4 separate regions of the Homo sapiens genome follow, and all the other regions are reported to be linked to region 3. Evidence: microRNA targets listed by miRTarBase, many of them from high-throughput screens and not tested one by one. Region 3 holds a microRNA gene; each other region holds the end of a gene's coding sequence.

The links. Region 3 holds the annotated microRNA hsa-miR-548aj-5p (UGCAAAAGUAAUUGCAGUUUUUG, at 5,158-5,180, shown strand). A microRNA usually pairs through its seed, bases 2 to 8, with sites in the 3' UTR of a target mRNA and lowers its output. Matches are read on the target gene's strand: a 7mer-m8 pairs with bases 2 to 8, a 7mer-A1 pairs with bases 2 to 7 and ends in A, and an 8mer does both.
Region 1: miRTarBase lists CLVS2 as a target of hsa-miR-548aj-5p. Seed matches in the 3' UTR shown: 7mer-A1 at 2,453-2,459 and 7mer-A1 at 536-542.
Region 2: the mRNA of ADARB2 is a reported target of hsa-miR-548aj-5p. Seed matches in the 3' UTR shown: 7mer-A1 at 4,821-4,827, 7mer-A1 at 4,890-4,896 and 7mer-A1 at 5,647-5,653.
Region 4: the mRNA of TMEM68 is a reported target of hsa-miR-548aj-5p. Seed matches in the 3' UTR shown: 7mer-A1 at 981-987 and 7mer-m8 at 1,718-1,724.

What each region holds. Positions count from the first base shown.
Region 1 is chr6:123,062,339-123,069,442 of GRCh38, reverse strand. It overlaps CLVS2 (clavesin 2), which reads right to left. Exons shown (of 6, transcript NM_001010852.4): 6 at 1-5,769. The coding sequence ends at 5,682. Among named protein-coding and RNA genes, the nearest start is that of CLVS2, 70 kb to the right of the region's middle.
Region 2 is chr10:1,177,261-1,184,386 of GRCh38, reverse strand. ADARB2 (adenosine deaminase RNA specific B2 (inactive)) reads left to right here. Exons shown (of 10, transcript NM_018702.4): 10 at 1,018-7,074. The coding sequence ends at 1,194. Among named protein-coding and RNA genes, the nearest start is that of LINC00200, 21 kb to the right of the region's middle.
Region 3 is chr21:18,684,189-18,691,314 of GRCh38, reverse strand. MIR548X (microRNA 548x) reads left to right here and starts at 5,151; the gene lies at 5,151-5,225. All of the region lies in intron 2 of MIR548XHG (MIR548X host gene), which reads left to right.
Region 4 is chr8:55,733,821-55,740,946 of GRCh38, reverse strand. It overlaps TMEM68 (transmembrane protein 68), which reads left to right. Exons shown (of 8, transcript NM_001286657.2): 8 at 729-2,189. The coding sequence ends at 815. Among named protein-coding and RNA genes, the nearest start is that of TMEM68, 36 kb to the left of the region's middle.

The sequences.
Region 1 (7,104 bases), not on the chromosome of region 3:
GGATAAATGAGGGAAACTCACAGAAGACACAAATACATATTTATTGAGTAAGCATTCTTTCTCAAATCAGGCTGAATTTTTTTTTTAATTTCACATCATATTTTGACCTGGGATTACTTTTTTGAGGATTTATTTAAACCAATGCTTTTCTGTAATTCAAATTTCTAAATTTAATCTCTTGCCTAATCCAGTCATTCTATTGCAAATGTGAAAACCCTAGTTATTTTATTTACTGATCATTCCTTTGCTATATGTAATTAAAACATTAGTTTACTTCTTTCAAACTTTCATTTGAAAGTTTGACTAGAAGTTATAGAATATTGAATACGTCATTTTGATGAAACAAATTACTATATATTTTCCTCTTTGATCCCCACACATACAAATATCACAAACTTGAGGAATCTTAACTTAAATAGCTAAGCACAATTTCTCTCAAAATAAAAATATTGCTAATTTTTAGACGATTTTTTAAAGAAATCTCCATTTTATAGATGCAGCAGATCCAGGACTACCAAATTTAACATTAACAATGTGCAAAATAAATGTATACATTTAAAATATAAAATATACAAAATAAAAGCATACATTTCTTTTAAACAGAAATGTATACTTGTCCAAAAATTATATTATAGTGTTTTGGAATTTATAACTCCTTCAAAAGGCCAAATAGTAAATGCCGTGTAGTACTAAATAAGTAGTTTGTAGTAGTAAAAATTAATAACATTTGAGTAAAATAGCAAATAATATACTCAGTATTCTTCAAGGACTTGTATGATTTCCTGTTAGACATCTTTTATTTTTCCTGGATAGCTTTGAAAACAAAAACTATTTGGTTTTCTGAGTTTTATTTATTGTTTAAGCAAATATAAAATCTGAAAAATTGAAAAATTGGATTAGAAACAAGACAGTGCTTTGTATCTCTGTTAAAAGTAAATGAATTAAAATTCATTGCAATTTTTTAAAGTAGTTGAGGATTGGGTGACCCTTAAAACTGTGGTTAAAATTTATTTTCACCTAAGTCCATCTCGTTCACCAGGTAAAATAAGTCTTACAGAATAAATGCACTATATCAAGGACAGACATATTTGCACTGAGACTTAAATCTAAGTCAAATAATGACAAAACTCTTCTAAATTTTAACAATTTCCATTATTTACCATGAGTGCATTGATTATATTTAACTCCTATAATTAAGTGATTTCTACATTTTTTTATTTCAATAGCATCATTTGTACACCTGCTTCCTTGAAAAAAAGGCTAATTTGAGTGTTTCAATCCACAAAGTTGTTATCTTATATATTTTCCTATGGTACTGGAGAATTCATTCCCATAGTTAGTACATAACAGAATCCACAGCACTATTTTCATGTCCTATGTTAACCTCCAAATATTTATAAAATAAAATCTTTAATTCTTAAAAAAGATTATATTCTCTAAGCCATTGAGATCATAATATAATAATGTTACAAAGCCAAGCTTCTTTTGTATGTTTACTTATTTGCCTTTTTTCATGTAGCAAATAATGTCAAATAGTTCCAGTAGCATATGGGAAGCTATTTTTTCAACTAAAACCAAAGACAAAAACAAGAAAACAAATCCTTTTCATTACTGAAGATAATTACACACCTTGCATATTTAACCAATCTTCTTTTGTTCCAATATGTTGGTTTATAATCTGCCTCTTCTTGTATGATCAGTGACCTCACAAATTTCAAATGCATTACTATGTTTCAGGCTATGTATTTATATAGCAGATCTACAATGGAATATATGCCTATGAGCTTATTGTTGTAAAAAATGTACATATACCATATCTGAAAGTTCAAATATCATGCTAGAGCTCTGCTCATTTTATTTAGTGTGTTGAAAATTTTTGAAGTGTCCTCATGGCTGATGGCAACTTTTCATGTAATCATTAATAAATATACACAAAAAAAGAAGCTGAGATATTATTCACCAACCACACAAGGCAGACCTTTAAATAAAACAACAGAAGAGTGTACAGCCTCTCAGCAAGCTTTCTTAATGTAACTTCTTTAAAGGACCAGAGATATGTCCATAAACCTTTACATTGTAGAAGCAAATGATCCCTGTCCCTGAAGACATACTCCATGGCTCTGAAGGTTTCTTTATGTGAAGAGTCATAAACATATTCCCCAATGTCTAAAACAACTCTCCAATTTCTTGATGCAATAGAGGGACCTCTTTTCCCTCAGGAATATTACAGACGCTTCACATGTTTAACAATATGACCTAGTTAACAGTATTAAAAAAGCTAAGTATTAATGTATGAATTTTTGGCTTTCCTGCTTATGAATGTATGAATTTTTGGTACTATAAAGTAAATAAGTATTCTATATGAAAAAACTTAGGAAATATCTCTGTCTACACTTATGCAAACCATTACTGAAATGAAAGAATTCATGCATGCCCACTTCAAAAACTTGCTTGCAAAACTCTGTTTAATACTCGTATATCGTTTTAGCCTAGTGCCACGTTTATCATTAACATGTACTAAAGTTACTGTATTTAACTTACACAACAGAGACTTAATACTGTATGAGTATGTTCAAATAAAGGCCTTAAATATCCTTCTTCAAATGATATCTATATTTCACCTATATAATATAGATTTACGTATTTACTTTTTGGAAGAGAGTACAAATAAAATCCATATGCCAGTAACGTTGCTTTATTCCATTTTCAAAGAGGCACTTCTTCATATTTCTTAGAGTATATTTTCATGATAATCTCTTCCCTCTTAAATAGTAGTCAAAAATGCAGGCAAACATCACTGACAACATAAGAGAAGTTATTTATTTTTAAACCAGCTTTGGAATCACCTGCCCCTGAAATAACTGGAAGAAAGAAAAAATATCAGAAATAGAAGATGGAACAGGCAGGGTGAAAGAAGTAAATGGACTACTGGACCATTCCAAGTCAAATGCGATAATTCTTTGAAGCCCGCAAATTTCAAGTGACAAGACAACTAAAATAGCTCTCGAAGTACAGAGGAAAATTCATTAGGGCAAACAGTCTAGTGTGTTAGTGTGTGTGTAAGAGTGTGTGTGTGTGTGTGTATGAGAGAGAGAGAGAGAGTGGAGGTATACTATTGCAATTAAAATACAAGAGTATAGGAGTGCTTATAGGCATACAACTATAGTGTATAGGTTATTCATAGACATAGGATGTGACACAGAATATCATGAAGGGAAAAATTCCTAAACAGTGCTAGATAGCTGGTGCTGAGGGGTAAATTTATAAAGTTGAATGAATATCCCTTGACTAAGGTTCACAAACATTACTAGAAAATGAGTTTATTCACAGAATGAACTAGATATGGTAATTTCAAAAGGCATCATCATTGTAATTTGTTCATTCATTTTAAAATATTTTACACAATCTAGCCAACTCTCAATTGCTCATCTAAAGATGAGCAGTAATGCAATGCAAACTTTCCAAATGTGGGTCTGGGAGACAGTGTGAATGATACTTATAATTAGATAGGCATACATATAAAATATGCCTTTCTAGTTATTTTTATATATGACACTAACTTTACGATAGGGGAAAGAAGCTGCCAATGCTGGTTGACATCTGAAACTGGCAGAATTCTGAAAACTGGCAATAAATGGTACACATCAAGAGAAACTCATGAGAATGAAAAGTTGACTGCCCTCTGCACTTACAATGTTTCTATTTTATTCCAATGGATTATACTGCCTAAGATTTATATAGTCTAAAAAGCCCATGGCTACAAAATGTATGTCAGGTAGGCAAGAATGTAAGAATATCAATGGTTAGAATTCTTATAAAGGTAAGAACTGCTGAGACATGTTGTCCCCAGTGCATTCCAATCTCTGTAAAAGTCACAAGGAGAGCAGAGTGCCTGACAGTCATTATTCTTCTGCACTTGACTGGAGGTTGGCATTATTAAGGTATCTTTCATTTGTGTTAATTAATGTATTTTTACACACATGAGGCAGTCCATTGATACACTGTACATTGGTGTATTCAGCTTGCTTTTACAATTTTTGGCTGCAGAATTATAACAAATTTTGGGAGCTTTTGGCCAAAAAATATGAAGGCTGACACATGCCTTTATTTTTGTTGGTTTCCAAGAGTTTCTGAGATATTTTTCTTCCAAAAGAATACTTTAATGGTAAACTCTCAATCTCAAAATTTATTATGGGTGATAAAAATCATTTTTTCACATTGAAATTTAAAATTAAAAAATTAAGATTTGCTGTAATTGTATAAATTTTATGAAATAAAATGTTAAATATGCAAATTTCTAAATCCACGTATAAATGATTACATGTTGTCATAGATGCCTTCCAATAATTTCATTATATCTCCTGAATATAATGTGTTTTTTCAGTCTTTTCTGAAAGAAATTGTGGATAAATAGGATCACGAAGATAATTAACTTAAATTTGAAAATAAAATTGGCTTTCTGTCACCTGATGCTACCTACACTATGTTGAGACCTATTGCTTCTTTGAAGGAAAAATATAGTTCAAATAAGATGGCACATATGTAAGATTGCATTATAAATTAACTTGGAATTCCTTTAAATAGGTACACTGAAAGTCAGTTTCACTATTTCTCCTTTTCATTAACTTCAGTGGAAGTAGTTTTCCAGAGTTATCTCATGTAATTATCCATAAGATCATTGAATATCTATGATTTATTTTATAAGCCTGTCACATTAAGGATTTATTAGAGCTCAGTAAAAATATATATGTGTGAATATATATATATATATACTTTTTAACCAGTGCACAACAATTAGAAATTAGCCCCTCATCTGTAAGTGGAAAATTTTATGTTCAAAATTAGCTGTCAGAACACTGTTCACATGAGTTCTCATTCTCTTAGTCAAAGAGTTTTGGAGGGGAAATGTACTTAGAGTACATTAGGAAGAAATATAATAGGGTCTTGAATAAAGGGCACATTGTGAAGACAGCAATTTAAAAAGAATCCACTCTTTTTTACATTTCTACGTCTTAATTGAGGAAACACATCTTTTCACAAGATTCCAAGAATTAAACAACATAGAAGAGTTCAAGTGTTCAGTTTACCAGCTCATCTGCCATTCCTTGCCTCCAAAATGCAAGGCCAATGATAGTTACTAAGACACATTTCTCTGAAATGAAAATCACTAGACAGGAAATACATTAATCATAAAATTTCCTGGAATCACTTAGTTGTGTGTGCCCGTTAAGAGTATGTTTGAATACTGACAGAGTTTCAGAGAAAAACAATGAAACAATCACTATGAGAGCTGAAATATGGCTTCATAGGAAAGAGGGCTACATTTAATTAGCTTTGACTGTGTCTTTTCTGCTTTTTGTTATAGTTCATAACACTGGCATGGACTTTTGAGCCAACCTTTTTCCAAACTGAGTTACTACTGAAATTTACAAACTTGACATGAAGATTACATTATATTTACAAACAACTTGGCACTTACAGAATAAATTATTGACATTTTAAAAATCCAGCCCAGGGCCCCCATGGTTCAGGCCAAGGAAAGCCTGATGCCTTGTTATATATTATGCTACATTAACATGAATAAGTCGGTTTCCAGCTGGTAATTCCTCTACAGTGTTGTCCCTGTTGCTGAAAACCAATACTTTCCATTTCTAATCCATGAAGGGGATGTAGAGAAGTTATTAGTCCAGAGAAAGCAATGGTTGCATGTTTTCTTCCTCATTTTTATCCATGCGTTTTAGTACTGTAGGATCCACTACTGATTGAGATCTGGAAAGGATAAAGCCAACGTCAGTGAGTTATTACCAGGTAATTGTGCAGATGACATTCTCTCCTCTTTTTGTCATTACTTCTCCCAGGAATGTGAATTCCCTTCCTCTATATCAAGAAATTTATGAATTGTGGATGTTGCACATTTAGAGAAAAACCACTGCTGGTGATGTTTTGCACTGGAGTGAGGAAAAAAATCCCCTCTGGCCTCTAAATAGAATAGTGAGCCGCCAATGATTCTAAATAGACAATACCAGGCTTAAGAGCTCTTCACAGTTAGGGAAGATTCTTTTCTTTGAGATATCACAAATTTCTAGTGTAGGATAGATGTTTTCCAATAAAACATCTCCAAATGGAAAAAAATTACAGTGAAATGATTATTATGATAAACTAAATAGAAATAACAGGAGGCTTAATTCCAGTCTTTAAAAAACATATGAAAAAAAAGCAACAAGAATGCACCTTTTTTGACCGTCATTTTTTAACTTTAATGATTGTATCAACCAAAAGATCAAAATTTGTATGTTTCTGTTAAATGTCCTAGTAGAATATCCAAATAAAATCAACCTTCATCTTGAGAATTTCATGGAACAGTTATAGATTTTTAAAAAGTAAAACCCCCTCTTGTTTAGGCAGCAACAGTTTATGATTAGGAAAGCACATAATTTGAAAACCCACTTATACATGCCTTTGATAGCAGGTGGGGCTTCTGTCTCAATTTGTCATTAGGAAACAATATGAGAATGGGAAAGAGGAAAATCAATGAAACATGCTCTGTCATGGCAGGAAGCTGCCATCTTAATAGCTGTAGCATTTAGTAAGCAGCTGCCCTTTTAGAATTCTCCTTGGTAATGAATTCTTCCCCTGCTGCTGCATTCCAGCCAATTGGCTTTTGCTGTGGCAATATGCCTCTTAGCAGACCTCATTAACTTCTGAAAAGACTATAAGCTAAAACACAACTGCACATGCAAATGAAAAAGAACAGCAACGGAACTAATTATCAAAGAAAAAATAATTACAGGATTAACTGATAAACTGATTAAATTTAAATAAACTTAAATTATTTCCTAAAGAGGGAATGAAAATGAAGGTGAAAGCATTAAAAAATTGAGAGATTTTGTTTCCTAAGTGTCATTTACACTATTTTATCTCAATATTAAATAGGCATTAGATGCCTATCATGGAAAAAAAAGACTTGCTAAAGTTGTGTGTGTGAGCGTAAGACAGAATAGATGAGGATATAAGATAATAATAGGATAAGATATGAATATAAGAATAGGATGAGGAAAAGGACAATAAGGAGAAAGAGTAGAGAGAATAGAGATTTTGTGTCAC
Region 2 (7,126 bases), not on the chromosome of region 3:
AGCAAATTTCTCCTTCACAAGTAGGGATAACAGCAATATTTCTGGATTTTAAATCAAAATCTGTATCTGTATGCATTTCCAAAGCATAGACTGTAACCAAAAACAACAAATAACAGAAAAACCAGCCAACACATAAAAAATGCCTCTCTCATTTTTCCACACTTTTTAATCCAAGCAGGAATAATAGTGTTGATTTGTCAACTGGTAGAGGAGGGCAGGCATACTAATGCCTAAAATAAACGTTTTAGCCAACTTAGAGGACACTCAGAATTGCACATATTAGCTCTGAGCTTGGCCGAGACGCCCAGCATCCTGCAGCTCTCAGCCTCTGTCCTGTCCGCTCAAGGGCACTGCCGGGGTCTCCCTTCTCCTGGAGACTTGGAAGGTCAGGGAAGCGTCGATGCTGTCCTGCTGAGCAAAAGGGCCCTCTCCTCTTGCACATGCTCGAGGTGACCCCCCGGTGAGTGCCTCCCTGGAAGACCCGCTGTGGGATTTGGAGCTCCCCCATGGCCCCATCCTCTTCCCTCCTGGCCTCCCTGCCCCGTGGTGGGGGTATCAGAGCTGCATTTGATCCCTGTCTTGTGTTGCTGCAAAGCTTTGCCTGGCAGACCTCAGAAAGCTAACAGAGGAAACGCCCCAGCTCCATCATCCTCCTGCTCAGCCGACAACATGACTCTCACCAGCCTGCTCCCTGCCCACTGTGATGCTGTTTTAGCTCCCACTGTCCCCCTCTGTCCCCAACCCTGCCTGGAGCCCCTGCACAGTGTTCATACTTTTAGTAGCAGTCAAGTTTATCCGCTCATTCATCATTCACACCTCAGATGAAGCGGGTTTCCTTGATGACTAGGTTTCCTGTGGAATTGCCAGAGGACCTGGTCACAGTTGCTCTCTGTAATAGTGGGAGAAAGAAAGGCAGAAGGCCAAGGCCAGGAGCTGATGCCTGGCATGTAAAACTCACCTAGCAGAAGCTCCTTTTCTGCTGGTGTCTGATTGGCTCTTTCTCCTTCTTGTCCGCAGCTGAGCACACGGACACCCAGCCCTGGAGACACGCCCTCCATGTACTGTGAGGCCAAGCTGGGGGCGCACACCTACCAGTCTGTGAAACAGCAGCTGTTCAAGGCCTTTCAGAAGGCTGGCCTGGGCACCTGGGTGAGGAAACCACCGGAGCAGCAGCAGTTTCTACTGACTCTCTAGGCTGCGGGCTCCTGGCTGCTGGAGCTGAGCGGGACGCTGGAGGGATGGGACCGTGTCTGGGGGGCGACGTGGCGGGTCGGCCGGTTCCCTGCATTCGTTTTACTTTGGTGTCCCAGAAACACGCGAGTGTGCAATGTTTGGACGAGCAACAACACAAATTCAGAACGTGCCTCTTTCCAGATCGCTGGCCCCAGAACCCTGTCCCCCACACCCAGGGGCACATGCACTGTTGAGTTAGCGCCGACTCTTCCTGTGGAGTCTGAGGGAGGGGCTCCATTCAGGCAAAGGGGTTTTAGCTGCAGCCTTGGAAGGAGGCACCGACACGACACCAGGCAGGAGTGAGCCTCAGGCCCCGTCCCTGCACCCCACCCCTGCGTGCGCCTCTTGGTGATGCTGGGGTCTCACTAGCTTGAGGGGGCACATGAAGATAAGCCACAAATGAAGAGAAAAGCCATGCCCACCCCAGCCCCAGAGAAACCAATAAGAATCCTCTATTATTTTCACTATTCATTTAGGTTTTTATACTCCACCTCCTTTCAAAAAAGATTTAAGATGTACGACATTACCGAACACCTAAAATAGAACCAGAGAAACGAAAGCCATTCCCACAAAGTGAAGGAACAGTTTCCAAAACCCCTGCGAGGCAGAGTTAAGACCTGTGACGTGGGGAGCCTGGAAACACCCGGCCCACGCGTGCTGCAGATGTGGGGAGCCTGGAAACACCCGGCCCACGCGTGCTGCAGATGTGGGGAGCCTGGAAACACCCGGCCCACGCGTGCTGCAGATGTGGGGAGTCTGGAAACACCCGGCCCACGCGTGCTGCAGATGTGGGGAGCCCGGAAACACCTGGCCCATGCCTGTTCAGTCCGTCATGGCGTTTGGTTTATGGTGGCCGATACTAAGAGCCACTGAGGTCTGGGTTGTGTAAGGGTTAGCTACCACCCTATAACCTCCCTACCAGGTAATAAGGAGACCAAGTCTTTGATCAAATTCTGATTTTTTAACTAAATTTTCATTAGAAAGCAAGCACAAAATAAAATCAAAACAACCTTTACCTTCAGCTTGAGAGGCTACCAGCTCTCTATTCTTTCAGATTCTCCAATCAACACCTTGCAGGACAAGACCCCAAAAAAGTTCAGCTGTCAAAAAATGTAAGAGGCAGGATTCTGTGACCCTCAGAGCAGGCTTCCAACACCAGAGACCTTCAGCTCACAGTGGAGATGGGACATGGGGGCTTTAGCCCACAGCATCATCCCTGAGAGCCAAGGCGCTGTATTCATACGGGGTCAGGCTCTTTTCCAAGTATCTTTACGTAATCCATGTACCTCGAGCTGCTGTCATCTCACCTCCGAGAACTCATTTCTAACATTCATCATGCTAGATAGCCAGTCTCTCATTTCTCCAACTTAAAAAATCCATCTCTGAAATTCATGACAGTGATGGCAGACGGCAAAGCATGGTGGTGTCCACCTCTGGGGTGTGGGCTTCCCGGAAAGAATCCCAGCTGACCACCCCAGAAAGTGCAAGAATAACATTGTGCTGTACATAGTCAAGTGCTATAAATTACAGTTATCATAATGAGAAGGCAGAAATGAAACTGAGTTGTAGCTATTTGTTACAAGATAATAAGAAGTAGAGATATTAGTATGGAAAAAGAAACTTTTCCTGGGATTTAAAATCAGGCCAAATTTATCACTCGAGTTCTTTTAGAAAAGAAAACAGGTACTGGAGTAGACAACTTCTTCCAGATAAAGTTTCAAAAGATACGAGAACATTTTTTCAAATAAAGGACTCACATTAATCTTTTATAAAAATCACAAAAATAAATGAAATCTTAATTCAGTGCAAAAGCTAAGCTCAAACGACCAGTTTCTATTAAGTTCTGGTAACTTGACATCACTAGGATGAAGCTTAGAGAACTTAGAGTCGAGAGGTGATGGGTGGCTCAGACATTCGCAGCAGTCAGAAGTGAGCGCTCCCCTGAATGCGTGGGAGCACGGCCAGCTCCTGGCTGAAGTCTCCCACCCAGGCCTCAAATCACCTTCATCTGAGATGTTGGCTAGAGAAGCATATAATGCTTTGTCCCAGTGGGCTCCAAATCACGCTGTTTCTGCAGCGAGGGGGCCTGTGTTGTAAGCAGATTTCACTGTCACAGGGAAGACGCAGGGTCTGATTCACGGGACTCGGAAAGCGCTCGGCCACCCAGTGGCCAGCATCATGAAGCCACAGCTGGGGGGTTGGGATTCGTTTTGTCTCAGGCATTGACCTTCCAGAAACAACTCAGACTTTACTGAAATATCAACATCCACATCTGGAGAAAGCCACACATTAATTCCATGCTACCCATTAGTACAAGTGTATGGATTCGTGTATTAAGTCCACAGGAGACTCCATGGAAGGAGAGATTAAAGCTCTTCAGAGAAGGCCGATAGCGACAGAAGAGTTTCCAATGCAGCCAGAGTGAGGTTGAGGTGCCGGAGCCTTTCCGTGGAGGGATCTGTCAGAGGGGATGTGGGCTGCAGAGGGGACCCCACGTAAGGAAAGGAGGGTCCCAGGCCCTGGGTAGTGAAAGGAGAAGGTAGTCGAGGCAGTCAAGGGTGACCCTACACGCAGGAGGCACGCCACACCAGATCACGCCACACGCAGGCTGCTCCCAACTGGCAGGGCCTGACCCAGCCAGGAAGGGCCAGGTCCTAGGATTCCACAGTGCCAGGAGTGCCCGAAGGGGCCAGGTCCCAGGATTCCCACAGCCCCAGGTGTGCCTGGAAGACCCGGGTCCCAGGATTCCCACAGCCCCAGCTATGCTTGGGGGGGCCGAGTCCCAGGATTCCCACAGCCCCAGGTGTGCCTGGAAGACCCGGGTCCCAGGATTCCCACAGCCCCAAGAGTTCCCGGAAGAGCTGGGTCCCAGGATTCCCACAGCCCCAGCTATGCTTGGGGGGGCCGGGTCCCAGGATTCCCACAGCCCCAGGTGTGCCTGGAAGACCCAGGTCCCAGGATTCCCACAGCCCTGGATGTGCCTGGAGGGGCTGTGCCACCTCTGCAGAGATGGAAGGGCTCGTGTTGAAGCCTGAGGATTTCGCCCTCAGGTCCAGGTCAGAACATCCCAGCACCACTTTCAGGCCATGTCTGCCCTGCAGTTTTGACCACTGAATTGGTCTTAAGAGTGGCCACCCATTCCCCTCCAAGTGAGGGGGCAAGACACAAGTAGGGGACGGGTCACTTTCTGTCACCCTGAAAATACGCTGGGCACGACACAAGTAGGGGATGGGTCACTTTCTGTCACCCTGAAAATACGCTGGGCACGACACAAGGGGGGCTGATGAAGTCAGGCCCGCCCCTCCAAGTCCACCTCGAAATCACCGTCTGGCTTCCTCGCACTTCCCACCACCTGACACCGCCAAGCCCCTTGCTTCAGATTTTCTGTGGTCTGTATTCATACCCTTGCTTCAGATTTTCTGTAGTCTATATTCATGCCTGCTTAGGCCCCTACAAAAGTCCTCATAAAACCAGCACCACCTTTATCTGCCTCCAAAACACACACTGCTTTCCCATCAGGAAGATCAGCAATGTGGTTTCCGGCCTGGTTCTTAGTCAAAAAGTTAGTGTCTGGTGGTTTCTGGCCTTTTTGCAGGACGGGGCGCAGGGAACGGCTGCGCGGCCAGGCAGCCTCCGCTGTCCACCTCCAGCCCCGGTTTTGCAGCCGTGTGTGATATCAAGGGATAGAGTTAGGGTTTCTGTGGGTTTTGTTTTTGCTGAGGAAAGGATGTGCAGGTCGATAGCTATTGTTTCCTTTCCATTCCTGTGATTCTCTTTACATCTGTATATATCTATCACACCATGCTGACTTTGTGATGAGTCCTGTTCCTCAGAAACATCAAGCTGGGTTCCTTTTCAAAGAAACACACAGATCATATTTCTCCATCTCATTTTGTTTTCACAGGGAGCTTTTCTTATCAACAAAGTCGCATGCTTTTTTTTTTGGATATAATGTTTATCACGTCTGGAGAGCCATAAACAGTAAATACAGAGGATATCAATGCCCAGAATAGTTATTTTGATGAAATCCTATTTTTAGATAATAAATTTCAAGATGTGTCTATAGTGTATTGTTTAAAACAACTGAAGACATTTGAGACGTACATAAAGTAGACATTTTTAATTTAGGGAAACTTATATGCCCTTTTTTAAGAAGCCATTCTAATAAAATAATCTGACTAATTGGCCCAAAATACAATAAGTATCACTTTCTAACAGAGACCAAAGGGAAGCTGAGAGGCTTTCCTTTTATGTACTACCGTTGGATCGCTGCAGCCGCCTCTCATAACACCCAACAGAACCCGGTGAGGCTCTGTGGGCTTCCCGCGGCCCTCAGGGAGGCTGCAGAGTCCCCTAGTCCATGTCAGGGAGCCGCCATCCCACATACCTCCAAAGCCTGTCCTCGCCTGCAGTTTTTGCAGAGCTCGCGGTTGGAGGTGGAAATTTAGAAGCCCTGTGTTGCAGGAGAGGCAGTAGCACCCCCAGGCAGCTCTTAGCAGGGACAGACCACCCCCCGCCTCGCTGGTATTTTAGGGTCTTTTGGTATTTTGCCACTGTGTGGGGCTAGGCGGGTGGCTGGAGGACACGGTGTAGGCCTTGCCGCTGTCTGGGTTCCTCGCCACTGCAGGAGCAGGGCTGTTTCTGGAAACACTGGGCTGCTGGTGACCCGTCAAACTTCTCCCACAAATTCTGAATCCGAGAAAGTGAAGGAAGGATGGTGGGGAAGTGAGGAGGCAGGAGCAGAGGCCACAGGGACCAACCAGAGATGCGGTGGAGACAGAGGAGCTTCCTTCTCAGGCTGTTTCTGGGAAGCCTGAGAGGCGGCCAGCACCACCCTCCGCTCACTCTCCCCTCAGCCTCTTCGCTTCCCTTCTCAACCCTTTCTCTCCTCCTCGCCTCTTCCCTTTCTTGCTGTCTTGTTAGTCCCTGTCCCAAAACTCCTGGCTCCTTTGTTCTGCTGCCGTGGCCCCCACCCAGGAGGAGGTCTCAGGCACCATCCCCCCACGAGGGATCCACACAACAGGTTCATGCTGGGGCTGGGGGAGCCCCGCTGGGTTCCTGATGCCTTGTGCACAGGGAGTTGCTGCAGTCATTTTTGGACTCTCCTGAATGTGTCCACATGTTCTGACCTCCCACCAGAAGGAACGCTGGTGGCCACATCTCTAGAGATCTATTTACTTTTTTGAGACCGGCTTATGAGATTGGCTAATTTTTGTATTTTTGGTAGAGATGGGGTCTCACCATGTTGCCCAGGCTAGTCTCGAACTCCTGGCCTCAAGTGATCTGCCCACCTCGGCCTCCCAGAGTGCTGGGATTACAGGCATGAGCCACCGCGCTGGCCTCTAGAGATTCACACCAAACAATATCACTCCTGCGGGAACCGCAGACAGATCAAACCCTGGTGAGAGGAACACTTTATTTCCCAACTCATCATCCTAAGCCAAGGTTGGAGGGATGAGCATTCCCTAAACACCAAGGCGAGATCACCTGGTCCCAGTGCCTCTTTTCACACAGGCCCTAGATTTCTATCTCTCTGCAGTTTATGCATCGGTAAAAAAAAAAAAATCTCTCCCAGTGTGCCCCGTTAGTTTTCAGCATTTTGTAAGCAAAATGAACTTAACACATAGTAATTCTAATTGAAGGTATGTACATAAAAAGCATGATAGAATGGCAATATTGTATCAATGGATGTACATTTGTAATATTTGTAAAAAAAAATCCAAAACCTTAAAATATGAATTTACATGTTAATTTGCCTCTAAGTTCTATAAATTGCACTTCAGTGATATCTAATAAGTGAATGTTTCTGTTAAGTAAATAAAAATATTCAGTAAAATTGTTCTTTCCTGGGTTGTTGGGCCTTTTTCATCAAGCAAAGTTCTGGGGGTCTCAA
Region 3 (7,126 bases):
AGACCAAGAAATAAAGTCAATTACATGATTGTATATTTAGAAAACCCCATCGTCTCAGGAGGTTTTTCTTAAGCTGACAAGCAACTTCTTCAATGTGCAAAATCACAAGCATTCCTATACACAAATAACAGACAGAGAGCCAAATCATGAGTGAACTCCCATTCACAATTGTTACAAAGAAAATAAAGTACCTAGGAATACAACTTAAAAGGGATTGAAGAACCTCTTCAAGGAGAACTACAAACCACTGCTCAAGGAAATAAGAGAGGACACAAACAAATGGAAAAGCCTTCCATGCTCATGGATAGGAAGAATCAATATCATGAAAATGGCCATACTGCCCAAGGTAATTTATAGATTCAATGCCATCCCCATCAAGCTACCAATGACTTTCTTCACAGAATTGGAAAAAACTACTTTAAAGTTCATATGGAACCAAAAAAGAGCCCGCATCGCCAAGTCATAAAGGTGTACTGTGGTGTGGACTAAACTATAGCATAGGGCTGAAGAGTTGATATTCTCCTAAGGTATGAAAATAAAGGTGTATTGTGGTGTGGACTAAACTATAGCATAGGGCTGAAGAGTTAATATTCTCCTAAGATATGAAAATAAAGGTGTACTATGGTGTGGACTAAACTATAGCATAGGGCTGAAGAGTTAATATTCTCCTAAGGTATGAAAATAAAGGTGTACTGTGGTGTGAACTAAACTACAGCATAGGGCTGAAGAGTTAATATTCCCATAAGGTATGAAAATAAAGGTGTACTGTGGTGTGGACTAAACTATAGCATATGGCTGAAGAGTTAATATTCTCCTAAGGTATGAAAATAAAGGTGTATTGTGGTGTAGACTAAACTATAGCATAGGGCTGAAGAGTTAATATTCTCCTAAGATATGAAAATAAAGGTGTACTATGGTGTGGACTAAACTATAGCATAGGGCTGAAGAGTTAATATTCTCATAAGGTATGAAAATAAAGGTGTCCTGTGGTATGGACTAAACTACAGCATAGGGCTGAAGAGTTAATATTCTCCTAAGGTATGAAAATAAAGGTGTACTGTGGTGTGGACTAAACTATAGAATAGGGCTGAAGAGTTGATATTCTCCTAAGGTATGAAAATAAATGTGTATTGTGGTGTGGACTAAACTTTAGCATAGGGCTGAAGAGTTAATATTCTCCTGAGGTATGAAAATAAAGGCATATTGTGGTTTTGCAAGCTGAACGTAAACAGCTTTAGTGGACTCTACTAACAGGTGAAAAGGAAAAAGCACGTATTATATCAATAGCTGCATACCGGATACCAGGGCATGCGTTAATGCACTCAAGCAATGCAACTACATCTGGTACAACAGCTGTAATTGGTGTTACCACGTGGGTAAAGCTTATGATAATTCATTGTCATTCTCCAAGATCCATCTGTTTTCTGCACAAGCAAATAGGCAAGTTAAATGGGCATGTGGTGGATATCAGCACCCCTACATTCTGAGTTGGGAAAATAACCATAGGATGGGATCAGGGATCCACTGGACCAACTGCAAAATGCACCTTGGCTATAACTCCATTATTCAACTGACCTATAAGCCCCTACTCTGATATATTGCAGCAATGTTTTAGGTCTCCTGGAATCAGTTTGGATCCAATGTTCAGTATTGATTACTTGTTTTTCTCCTAATGCAAAGTCACCCTGACAAAAGGCTATACATCCCTTTTGGAAAGGATGGGGAAAGATTAATGATATAAATTTTTTTGGCAGTATAGCGAAGTCCTTCCTCAAGGGAACCTGGCCTCCCTTTCATTCAAGGAGTTCTGGATCAGTAATTGGCTCCATTCTGGGAATTGATAGAGGTGCGCTTTCTGCTTTTATGATTCAATTTAGACTCCTATTTCTTGACCTAGATCAATTAGACAAATAGTCCGACTCACAGATAACTTATGGAATTGGCTAATTGATCTTGGTGTCCCTAGGGGTAGAATAGATGGAGAGTGTGCTAAATTCTTACCTGATCTGTATAAGCTAAAGAAAGAGTTCTAGGTCAGGAATAAATAATCGGAAATTTTCAATTTCATTTGTAGTGTAGACCAGCTTTTGTTTGAACCAATCAACTAAACTGTTAGATCTTTTTCTAACCCCTCATGCTGCACTATTAAATGAAGGATCTCTGCTTAGCTGGCCTGTATCAATAAATTTAGCCAGATCCAACGTTATGTTCCTACTATCCCACAACCTTAATACTTATTTCTCACATATTCCCAGGGTTTCTGTGTGTATAAATTGAAAAAATTATGTAGTTCTTTTGGCTTCTGGCATATCTACTCATGGGGTACACTTCGACCTCAGCTTTCTGCTAGAACTTGAGTCTAGGTACAAGTCTAGAATAAAAGAGTCGTGGGAGGGGGGCGCTGAGGAGGATTAACAGCATCTTGCAAGGAAACTACCTGGGGACGGGGCATTACAGTTTCCTCAGTCAATGCAGGTTTAATCTCTAAATGATGGTGAAAGGGACACTTCTAAAATTCAGTAAAATTTAAGAGTACAATTCCCTTTTCTTCATTTATAGTATTTTCAGATGACCCATTCAAATTTTGAGGATCCCATTTCTTCCTTAATCCTTACTCTTAAGATCTTCAACAGATTGGGTGAGACTCACCCACGTTATGGAGGATATCTGTTTCATTTAAGGTCTACTGATCATCAATGTTAACCTCATCAGACAGCAACATCCAGACTGGTGTATTTAGATTAGTGTTTAACAGAAGTGGATACCATAGCCTAGGCAAGTTGACACACAAAAACTAACCATCACAATGTATGAAATATTCAGTATGGGTGTCTATTTTTATTTTTTCTTTTGGTGTATTTTTAATATTTAGGGAAGTTTATAATTTTGCTCTAGAAATTGCATGAATGATTTTACGTTTGTAAAATATCCTTTTTCTTCAATTCTTTTAAACACCATGAACATGAAGTTGTATAGTTTTCCTTTCCCCTTTCCAGGATACCATCACCCACATTTAATAGATATCAATAACTTTCGAGTGTTTTTCATTGTTTCCTTAAATAGACTTGATCTTTTACTATTTGATTTGTAGCTTTAAATAATACCCTTTGACATCTAGCAATTACGATGATGTAATCAGAAAACTAACTTTATTTTTTATCTTCTTATCAAAGCCATCTGTTCCGTTTTGTGTTAGATGAATTATTTCCACATTATCAGAGCATATACAATATATAATCTATTCTGTCAACTTTAGCCTTTCTTTCATTTATTTGTTAAATAGCAATTACTCCTTTCCACCTGGAGTTCATCCCCTCATAATGTTGTCAAGGAGGCTTCCGCAAACAGTATTCACAAAGTTTCTTGCATGTTCAAAATGTGTTTTGTTTTTAAACTTCAAGAGCACCTGCTTTGTCTGACTCTTTCTTTCCTAAATTATCATAGATTTTTCTACACTCTCTCTCCTGGGTAGAATGTGGTTGTGGTTGTGACTATTTCACATTATAAAATGATGACTGTATAAATTATTATACAAACTAGAAGGGGTTTTGGAGTGAAATGGGTCAATATCATGGTATAATAATTATACCAGCATCATAGGCATAAAATCTGACTGTTTTGCACCAACTGTAATAAATGGAGTTTTGTCCTGAGACCAGCATGATATGTGTTATTTTACATTATCCCTAGACAAGTTGATAACCACATGGGGAAATGAGACAGGACATGAGAGGAGTCCAAAAATGAGTATGATAATAGAAAAGTCCTGCAAAGAACAGCTTTTACTCAATCCTTCAAAAATAGTCTATTCCTGATTAGAGAAAAAGCGCTTGGAGTATTTAAGCCTCTACACACATCTCTCAATGTTTAAGAGCTGTTAGCAGGAGAACAAAAGTTCGGAGATAATAGTTCTCCAATTCTGTAGACAAATCTGATTCTGGCTACTTGTGCATAGTACATAGTACATGGTGCTAGAGAAGCAGGTACTTACTATGGGGAATAGAATTACATGGGGACTTTATGCAAACAAATGTTTAAGGAATCTGATATGATATGAGTGACACACTAACAGTACACCATAATGCAGGGGAGACTTACTAATATGGTTTGACTGCATCCCCACCCAAATCTCATCTTGAATTGTAGCTCCCATAATTCTCACGTGTTGTGGGAGGGACTCATGGCAGATAATTGAATCATGGAGATGGTTTCTCCTATACTGTTCTCCTGTTAGTGAATAAGTCTCACGAGATCTGAAGATTTATTTCCTCTTTCACTTGTCTGCCAAGACAATGTAGACTTGTCTGTCTACATTCTCTCTTGTCTGCCACCATGTAAGACGTGCCTTTAGCCTTCTCCATGTTCGTGAGTCCTCCCTAGCCACCTGGAACTGTGAGTCCATTAAACCTCTTCTTTTTTATAAAGTACACAGTCTTGGGTATGTCTTTATCAGCAGTATGAAAACTGACTAATACACTTCACTGTCAATCTCTAATTTTCAAATTGTGGCTAGTTACAATTTCTAGGGGAAAAAGTTATACGAAAAGTGTTAGTGGCAGGAAAAAAAGACTCCATCACTTGTTAGTCCAAAGGCCTTAATTGGTATTTTTATCTTACTCCTCTTCCATCTATTCTTGTATACCTCTTGTATATGAGCATGTGCAGACATGTTATAAGTTAAGGTTTCTTTTTTGTCTTTAAATATACTTACATTCCCTCTGGGATAAAATTGTTTAAAAGACTATAATTTTTCTCATTGAATAACCATGGAAATACTTTCAAAAATTTAAGCACATAAAAAATGACATGTTTCTGGATTTTCTATTCTGTTCCATTATCTATACATCCAGTTGTAAACCTCAGCCATACTACCTCTATGACTGGTGCCTAAAAGGAGTATATAGGGAGTCTTGGAAGAAAAAGGTGCTGCTCATCTAATTTTGTTCTTCTTCCTAGAAATCATTTTGTATATAATATGTCCTTTGGATTTCCATATAAAATTTAGAATTAGCTTAACAATTTCTACAAAGAACTTTGCTACAATTGTTTTTTAAATATGCATTGAACATATAGATCAATTTGGGGAGAGATACTATCATAACAACATTAAGCCTTCCAATCTGTAATCACATTATACATTGCAATATATTAGGTTAGTGCAAAAGTAATTGCAGTTTTTGCGTTACTTTCAATCGTAAAAACTGCAATTACTTTCACACCAATCTTAATATTTCGATCTTGTTTTATTTTTCTCAGCAAAGTTTTGAAGATTTCAGTAAACAGGTATGGCATACATTATGCTAAGTTTATTCCTGTGTTCATGTTTTTAACGTTGTTACTAATGGCATGTGTTGTATTAATTTTTATCTTTCTCATATTGCATTGGCAAGAATGTTGATGCAATATTGAATTTCAGTGGTTAGACTGGATATCTCTACTTTGTTCTAGAACTTAGAAGGAAATAATTCGTTTTGTTCATGTAGGGCCAGCTTCATGCACTGTACCTTGTACAGTCATACAAGATTTCATGCTCAGAAGTGCCCTGTTTTTGATTTAACACTCTCTTATTACTGCCTTAAATTTTTAAATAATTTTACCTCTGTGTTTTAAAAGTGCAGTATGATGGGACACTTGAGTACAAGTGTGAGCAGAGATGTCTGTGATATACATGTTCAGTTTCTTACTGTTCTATTCACATACAGCGTTTGTGATGCCACGTGAACGCAGAATTCTTGTGGACCCACAGTGCTTGAAAGTTCAGCAAGACTCTGAGTACAAGATAAGCATTTTATGTCTATAAATGAGTGAGCAAGGTTGACAACTCCAAGAGGCTACACTTTCCATTCAAAACCAGAACTCAATTCAATTGCAAACAAGCAGTGACTTTCCAATAAACACAAACAACCATGGAACCCTATTACATAATTTATTTTCTCTGTTACTTTACTGCATTATTTAACTACCTATGCTGAAAGTGACACAGAAGGAAAGGAAAAGAAAGAAGGAACAATAGTTCTTTTTTTTTGTCCTTGCTTATTACTTATTCCATCTATTTTTGTTGTTGCTTTTTACTTGCTCTTTGTCAGTCTTTTATTATTTTTGTATTTCATTTTAAATACTGTTAATCAACTATAACTATTTTTATGGTTGTTTTGTGTTCACAATATATATCCTTATGTTATTAGTTTATTTTAACATAATACTGTACCATATAAACACACAGTATAAGCAGCGTGTTATGTCCCAAAAACGGTTTCAGAAAATGAAAGGAAACTTCTACATTGGTAATCATTGTTTGATTATGTATACCTTAGCTTCCATCAAATAACAGCTTCCTTGCTTAAAAACTGTAATAGTTCATCTAGTTCAATTTAGTTAGTGATAAATTCCTCTAACTTTTGTTGTTGGGAAAAGTATCAGTTTTACCTTGATTTGTTGTAGATATTTTACTCTATATAAAATTCTAGATTGATGGTTATTTTTCCTTCCTACTTCAAAGATATTTTATTGTCTACTGCCTGGCATAGTTTCCTTTTTTTTCTTTCTTTTTGCTTTCTTTTCTTTTCTCTTCTTTCTTTCTTTTTTTTTTTTTTTGAGACAGAGTCTCAATCTCAGACAGGCTGAAGGGCAGCATCATGAACACAGCTCACTGCTTGACCTCTCACACTCAAGCCATCCTCCCACCTCAGCCTCCTGAGCAACCAAGACTACAGGCGCAAACCACAATGCCTGGCTATATATATAATTTTTTTTTTTTTTTTTTTTTTTTTTAGAGACTGGGACTCACTATATTGGCCAGGCTGGTCGCAAACACCTGGGGTCAAGCATTCCTCCTGTCTTGGCCTCCCAAAGTGCTGGGATTTCAGGCATGAGCCACCATGCCCCGTCCTGGCATACTTTCTAATGAGAAATCTGTGAACATAGTTATCTTTGATTTTCTATACACTATTACTAGATGTTCATCCACGGCATGTGTGGTTTACATTGTGCAACAGATTGAAGCAGATAAAAGCCATTGTCTGTACATCATACTTCTTTCTAATACATGCTCTGCAATTTTCCAGCCAAACCCACCTGTCTGAAATTCTATCTCTATCTCCTCATATCAAGGAGATTGTCATGCTGT
Region 4 (7,126 bases), not on the chromosome of region 3:
GGCGTATTTTTATAATACATCTTTGGCCTAGTGTTTATTTTCTTTAAAGGTTAAAGTCTAGAAAAGGAAGTATATATGTATGTAAATACATAGTTCATGATGACTCATGCCTGTAATCCCAGCACTTTGGGAGGCCAAGGCAGGAGGATCCCTTGAGTCCAGGAGTTCGAGACCAGCCTGAGCAACACAGTGAGACCCTGATATAATTGTTCAGTATGTATGGTGATAAAAGAAAATATACATTAGAATTTACTAATAGCTGGAAAGGACTAAGTCTTCCATTTGCCTACTCGAAATTTTTCTATTTTTTTTCCTCTTTAAGTCCCCTTTAGTGTTTATCATGTGCAAGGTGTTGCTGTGCTTAATGCTGGAGAAATTCTAAGATGTATCTTAAGGAGCTTACAGTCTGATATAGAAAATAGACACGTGGACAACAACTATAATTGAAGGCTTAATAAAATAAGTATAAGAAATATGCTGCAGCCAGGCACAGTGGCCCATGCCTGTAATCCCAGCACATTGGAAGGCCAAGGTGGGAGAATTGCTTGAGCCCCAGGAGTTCGAGAACAGCCTGGGAAACATAGTGAAACCCCATCTCTATAAAAAAGAGAAATATATAAGCTTCAGGTGTACTGAGAAGGAAATCATTAATTCTGAGGGGTAATGGGAGATAAATCAGTCTATATTAAGATCTACTAACAATAGCTTTTCTTTTGTTTTCTTAATAGACGAAGAATGCTGTTCAAGCTTTGATTGATAAGCACCAAAGAATACCAGGAAACATTATGAGTGCTTTGTTAGAACGTTTTCATTGATAACAAAGGGTCAACTAGAAGATGATTTAGTACATTTATATTAAATGTTTGTATCTAAGGTACTGTCTTCTGAATTTTGTAGGTCCTATAATTAGTATTTTTTAAAAAAATCATGTTAATAAGCATCTTTCACAGAATTCGTTTCTTTAAAATAGTCAATTTTGTTTTTGCAATTGTGTCAAATACTAACAAATTACACACCTAGTAATTCAGAAAAAGATGTCTTATTTGTAAATTCCTAACAATTTATGCTAAACATATAGATTCTTAAGTTTATTAATAACAGCAGTTTAGGTTAAACAAACATTCCTGGATAATGCGTTAAATTTCTGTATCTGTCGCCCTGAGCTGATTTTGAAAGATGGTATAAGCTAGGGGTTAGTATAGTTGTTTAAGTTAGAAAAAACATGCTGTTGTCTGCCCCTCATTCCCTTCATGACCTTGGGCAAGTCACGTAATGTTTTTGTGCCTCAACAATTCACTTTTTAAAAACATGATCGTATGATGAATGATATTATTTTGTTATTTATATTTACTGTGATTGATAACTGTTGAACCAAAATAATAAAATAATTAATTTAAACAATGTCAAAATCCTTTAGCAGTTATGTATATATTTTCTCCATTGTGTGTTTAAATTATGTCATGTCCAGTTGCCAAGCACAATGAAAAAGATGTATTATTTTTTAAATTGAATAAAAAATTAGGAAAAATAAAATTTCTAATTATTATTTTTAGTATGATATTTTTAACAAGAGTCTATAGGCAAACAATATAGGGTGTGCTGTGCATTGTCAGCCCTATACTGTGGTCTTAATAATGCCAGCTTAAAAATCACTGTTGTGCTCTGCATTTCGTGTGTTAGAAGCTGATTCTAGGCTGAGGAAAGCAAGAGTTCTCTACTTTTGCTCAATATTGAGGCTTACCCAGTTTGACTCTACAGCCAGTGAAGTGGTTTATTGCTTCAATAAAAATATACTTGAATGATGAATTTATTTATGTTTTGTTTTGTTTTTATTTAGAGATGGGGTTTTGCCATGTTGGCCAGGCTGGTCTTGAACTCCTGACCTCAGGTGATCCACCTGCCTCAGCCTCCCAACTTGCTGGGATTACAGGTGTGAGCCACCATGCCCAGCCTGAATGATGAATTTATGTGAACACAAAGCCCTCTGAAAAATTAATGATTTTCAATTTGTTGTCTTCTTGAAAACTGAATTTAAGTATTATTTAAACAGAAAAGTGTCAGAAATCAAATGCAGTATCTCCCTCTCCCTTTTTTAAATGTTGAATTAGTAGGGTTTTTGTATAGCTTTTTGTATTGTGTGTATTTATGATATGTGAAATGTACATAAAATTAAACAATGTGAAAATAAACCTGAGTTGCAGTTAATTTTCTTGAGAAATTACATGTGACATTTTAAAAATCTTTTTTTTTTTTTTTCTGAGATGGAGTCTCGCTGTGTCTGTTTCCCAGGCTGGAGTGCAGTGGCACCATCTTGGCTCACTGCAACCTCCGCCTCCCAGGTTCAAGCAATGCTCCTTCTGTCTTCTGAAGGAGCCTCCTGAGTAGCTGGGATTACATGAGTGTACCACTACACCTGGCTAATTTTTGTGTTTTTAGTAGAGACAGGGTTTTACCATGTTGGCCAGGCTGGTCTTGAACTGCTGACCTCAAGTGATCCGCCCACCTCAGCCTCCCGAAGTGCTGGGATTACAGGTGTGAGCCACTGCGCCCACCCTAAATAGTCATTTTAAATTGATTTTTTTGTTGTACTCTTTACACATTTCTCACCTATAATCATATTCTTTGATCTAGCCACAATGAAGAAACTTCACTTTCCAGTGTAATAAATATATTTTAATTTTGTGGTCAATGAGAAGAGTCAATTAATGATTACTTGCAGTTTCCTCCCCCCACCAGTGAGCAGTGTTTGGTTCAAAATTGATGAAATATTTCAGAATGAATGAATAAATGATATAAAATGAATGAGAAATTTGTTTTGGGTCAACTATTGAGTTTTAAAGACTGAAGTTAGCCAGGAGTGGTGTCATGAACCTGTAGTCCCAGCTACTTGGAAGGCTGAGGCGGGAGAATTGCTTGAGCCCAGGAGTTCGAGGCTGCAGTGAGTCGCAATTGTGCCACTGCACAGCCTGAGTGATAGAGCAAGCCCATGGTTCTATTAATAAAGACTAAAGAAAGAACAGCATTTATTGCTAATGTGGCAAAAGCTATTATTTTTACAATATTTAAGTTTTACTGCTTTAATTAAAACCTTTTTTTAAAACCCTGATATTCAGACTAACATCATTGCTTCAGATCTTTATCTTTGCTATTTGAGTTTAATTCCCATTTATAAGAGTCAGAGAATATGACTAAATATAGAAATATGGCTGGGCATGATGGCACACACCTATAATCCCAGCACTTTGGGAGGATTGCTTGAGGCCAGGAGTTTGAGACCACCTGGACAACATAACAAGACCTCTTATCAAATAAAATTTTTTTGTTTTTAAATTAAGCTGGGTTCAGTGGCTCACACCTGTCATCCTAACACTTTGGGAGGCTGAGGCAACTGGGTCACTTGAGCCCAGGAATTCAAGACCAGCCTGGGTGAAATCCTGTCTCTACAAGAAAACGCACAAAAATCGGCTGGGTATGGTAGTGCACACCTGCAGTTACAGCTACCTGGGAGGCTGAGGTGGAAGGTTGAGCCTGGAGAGGTCAGGGCTGCAGTGAGCCATGATTGTGCCACTGCACTCCAGCCTCAGCAACAGAATGACACCCTGTCTCAAAAAAAAAAAAAAAAAAAAAAATTAAAACAAAAGAAATATAAGTAATGGGAAGAAGGTGTATCAGTTTTTTTTCATAATTTTTCTTTCCCTTCTTATCACTTCTATTCATGTGTCTTGACCCTTTTTTGAGGAGTGTTCACAGTCAGAACCTGATGCAAGTATGAAGAGCCTCTCTCCAGAAGTGTAAACATGGCGCACTTATGGGAAGTTTTTCTTGCTCATTTTTAAAAACTTTCATTCTGAAACAATTCGAAGCTTACAGAAAAGTTGCAATTATAGTGCAGAGTACTCCCATACACTCTTCACCCAGATTCACCAAGGTAACATGTCACATTTGTTTTATTCTTTTCACACTCCTGTTGCCCTCGCTGTCTCCACATATGTATCTATACTTTTTCTCCTAGATCATCTGATAGTAAATTGCAAATACCATGCCCCTTACTGTTACCTGGACTGTGAGATCATCCATTTACAGAACCACAAGACAATGATAAAAAAAATCAGGAAAATCTTGATTGATATAATACTATTATCTATAGACTGTATTTAAATTTCACCAGTTGTCTCAGTAATATAATTTATATCAATCTTTCTTCCTGATTCATCCAAGGAAGGATCACACATTGCATTTAGTTTTCCTATTTCTTTAGTCACCTTTAATCTGGAATGATTCTTCAGCCCTTCTTTGTCTTCAATGATAGTGACCTTTTTGGAGAGGGGGGACCATTTATTTTGCAGATAAGCCCTCATTTTGTTTTTGCCTCACATTTCATTACAAGTTGATTCAGACTATGCATTATTTTAGAAATACAACATGAATGATGCTGCAGCTCTGTCCAGGGCGTCACATCAGGTGGCACATATGTTGGTTTGTGTCATTAGTGGCAATAACTTTGATCACTTGGCTGAGATGGCATTCACCAGGTTCCTTCCCTGTAGTTGTTATTTTTTTCCCTTTGTAATAAGGAAGCTTATTTTGAGATTCTTTGAGACTGTCTACAGTCATGCATTGCTTAATGATGGGAATATATTCTAGAAATGCATCGTTAGGCGATTTTGTCATTGTGTGAACATCATAAAGTATACTTACCCAAAGCTAAATGTATAGCCTACTACACAAATAGGCTGTATGGTATAGCCTGTTGCTCCTAGCCTACAAACTTGTACAGCATGTGACTACTGAATACTGTAGGCAATTGCAACACAATAGTATTTTGTGTATCTAAACACAGCTAAACTTAGAAAAGGTACAGTAAAAATAAGGTATTATAATCTTATGGGACCACTGTTGACTGAAACGTTACTATGTAGCACATAACTGCATGTAGCTGTTCCTCATCAAACCTTAACTAGTTAACTTGTTTTAGCATCTTTTGAATTGATTCTTGTGTGAATAAATTATTACTAGGGATTCAAGAGTGTGATTTTCTCATATCCTATATTTACTAGTTGGCATTCTTTTTTTTCTTTTTTTCTTTTTTCTTGAGACAGGGTCTCACTCTGCTGCGGGCAGTGGTGTGATCTCGGCTCACTGCAGCTTCCTGGGTTCAAGCAATTCTCATGTGTCAGCCTCCCAAGTAGCTGGGATTACAGGTGTGCGCCACCACGCCTGGCTAATTTTTGTATGTTTAATAGAGATGGGGTTTTCATGTTGGCCAGGCTGGTAGTAGTCGGCATTCTATAAGAAAGAGCATTCCAATTTCAGTATCGTGCCCCCCCACCCCCACCCCTAGGCTTTTAAAAATAATTTCAACTTTTAAATTCAGAGGGTACATGTGCAGGTTTGTTACATGGGTATAATGTGTGACTGCATGACTCTGAGGTTTAGGGTATGAATGATCTCATCCTAGTACCTAGGACCCAACAGATAGTATATCAGCCCTTAGCCTTTTTCCCTCTCCCCTGTAGTAGTCCCCAGTGTCTGTTGTTGTTTCCACTTTTATGTCCATACCCTTAGTTTTTCTTTCTTTCTTTCTTTTTTTTTTTTTTTGAGGCAGGATCTCACTTGCCCAGGCTGGAGTGCAGTGGTGTGACCACGGCTCATTGCAGCCTCGACCTCCCCAGGCTCAGGTGATCTGCCCACCTCAGCCTCCTGAGTAGCTGAGACTACAGGCATGTGCTGAACCCCCAGGCTAATTTTTGTATTTTTTATAGAGATGGGGTTTCATCATATTACCCAGGCTGGTCTCTAGCCCTTAAGCTCAAGTGATATGCCCCCCTTAGCCTCCCAAAGTGCTGGGATTACAACTGTGAGCCACCGTGCCTGGCCACCTGTATTTATTACAACATTTCTCACTTATTTATCACTTACAAGTATTTTCCCTCAAATATAATTGGGGCATGATTCGTTGACTCATTGGCCATTGGTGATTAAACTCAATCTGTAGCTCCTCTCCCTTCTCCTGAGGTAGGGATGGGGATGGGGCTGAAACACACACACACACACACACACACACACACACACACACACACACACACACAGATACACACCACATTTTGTTGATGAATGTTTGGGGTGATTGGTGTACAAACGTGTCTGAGTCTCTGCTTTTAATTCTTTTGGGTATATACCTAGAAGTGGGACTGCTGTCTCATATGGCAATTCCACATTTAAGTTTTTGTAGGAACCACCTGTAAACCAAAAATAAATTTCTGAGGCCCCTTGATAATAACTCTTTTAACAAATTGCCATCAGAAAAATTAATAATCTACATATGACCCCCCCGATTCCAACTTCTAGTTGTCCTGACCTTCCAGATCAAATCAATGTAAATCTTACATGTATTGATTGATTGTATTTTGTCTCCCTAAAATGTATAAAAGCAAATTGTACCCCAACCGCCTTGAACACATGTCATCAGGACCTCCTGAGGCTGTTCATGGGTGCATCCTTAACCTTGGCAAAATTAACTTTCTAAATTGATTGAGACCTGTCTCAGATACTTTTGTGCTCACACAGCAAACTTCCACAGAGACTGCATCATTTTACATTCCCATCAGCGATGCACCTTTACTAACACTTGTTATTTTCAATTTTTTTTGACAATAGCCACCCTATGACTAGTGGTGAAGTGGTATCTCACTGTGGTTTTGATTTGCATTTCCCTAATGATTAGTGATGTTGAGCATGTTTTCATGTGTTTAGTGGCCATTTGCATATCTTCTTTGGAGAAATATCTATTCAAGCCCTTAGTCCATTTTTGGATTGGATTGTTTTGTTGTTGATGTTGAGGTTTTGGAGTTCTTTATATATTCTGGATATTAATCTTTTATCAGATATATAATTTGCACATATTTTCCTCCTCTTTGTAGGTTGTATTTTTATACTTCAATAATGTCCCTTGATTAATAAAAGTTTTTAATTGTAATGAGATCCAATTTAGCTATTTCTCCTTCTTCTTCTCTCTCTCTCTTTTTTGGGCCTATGCTTCTGATGTCATATCCAAGAAATAATTGCCAAATTCAATTTTATTAAGATTTTCCCCTATGTTTTCTTCTGAGAGGTTTTAAGTTTAGCT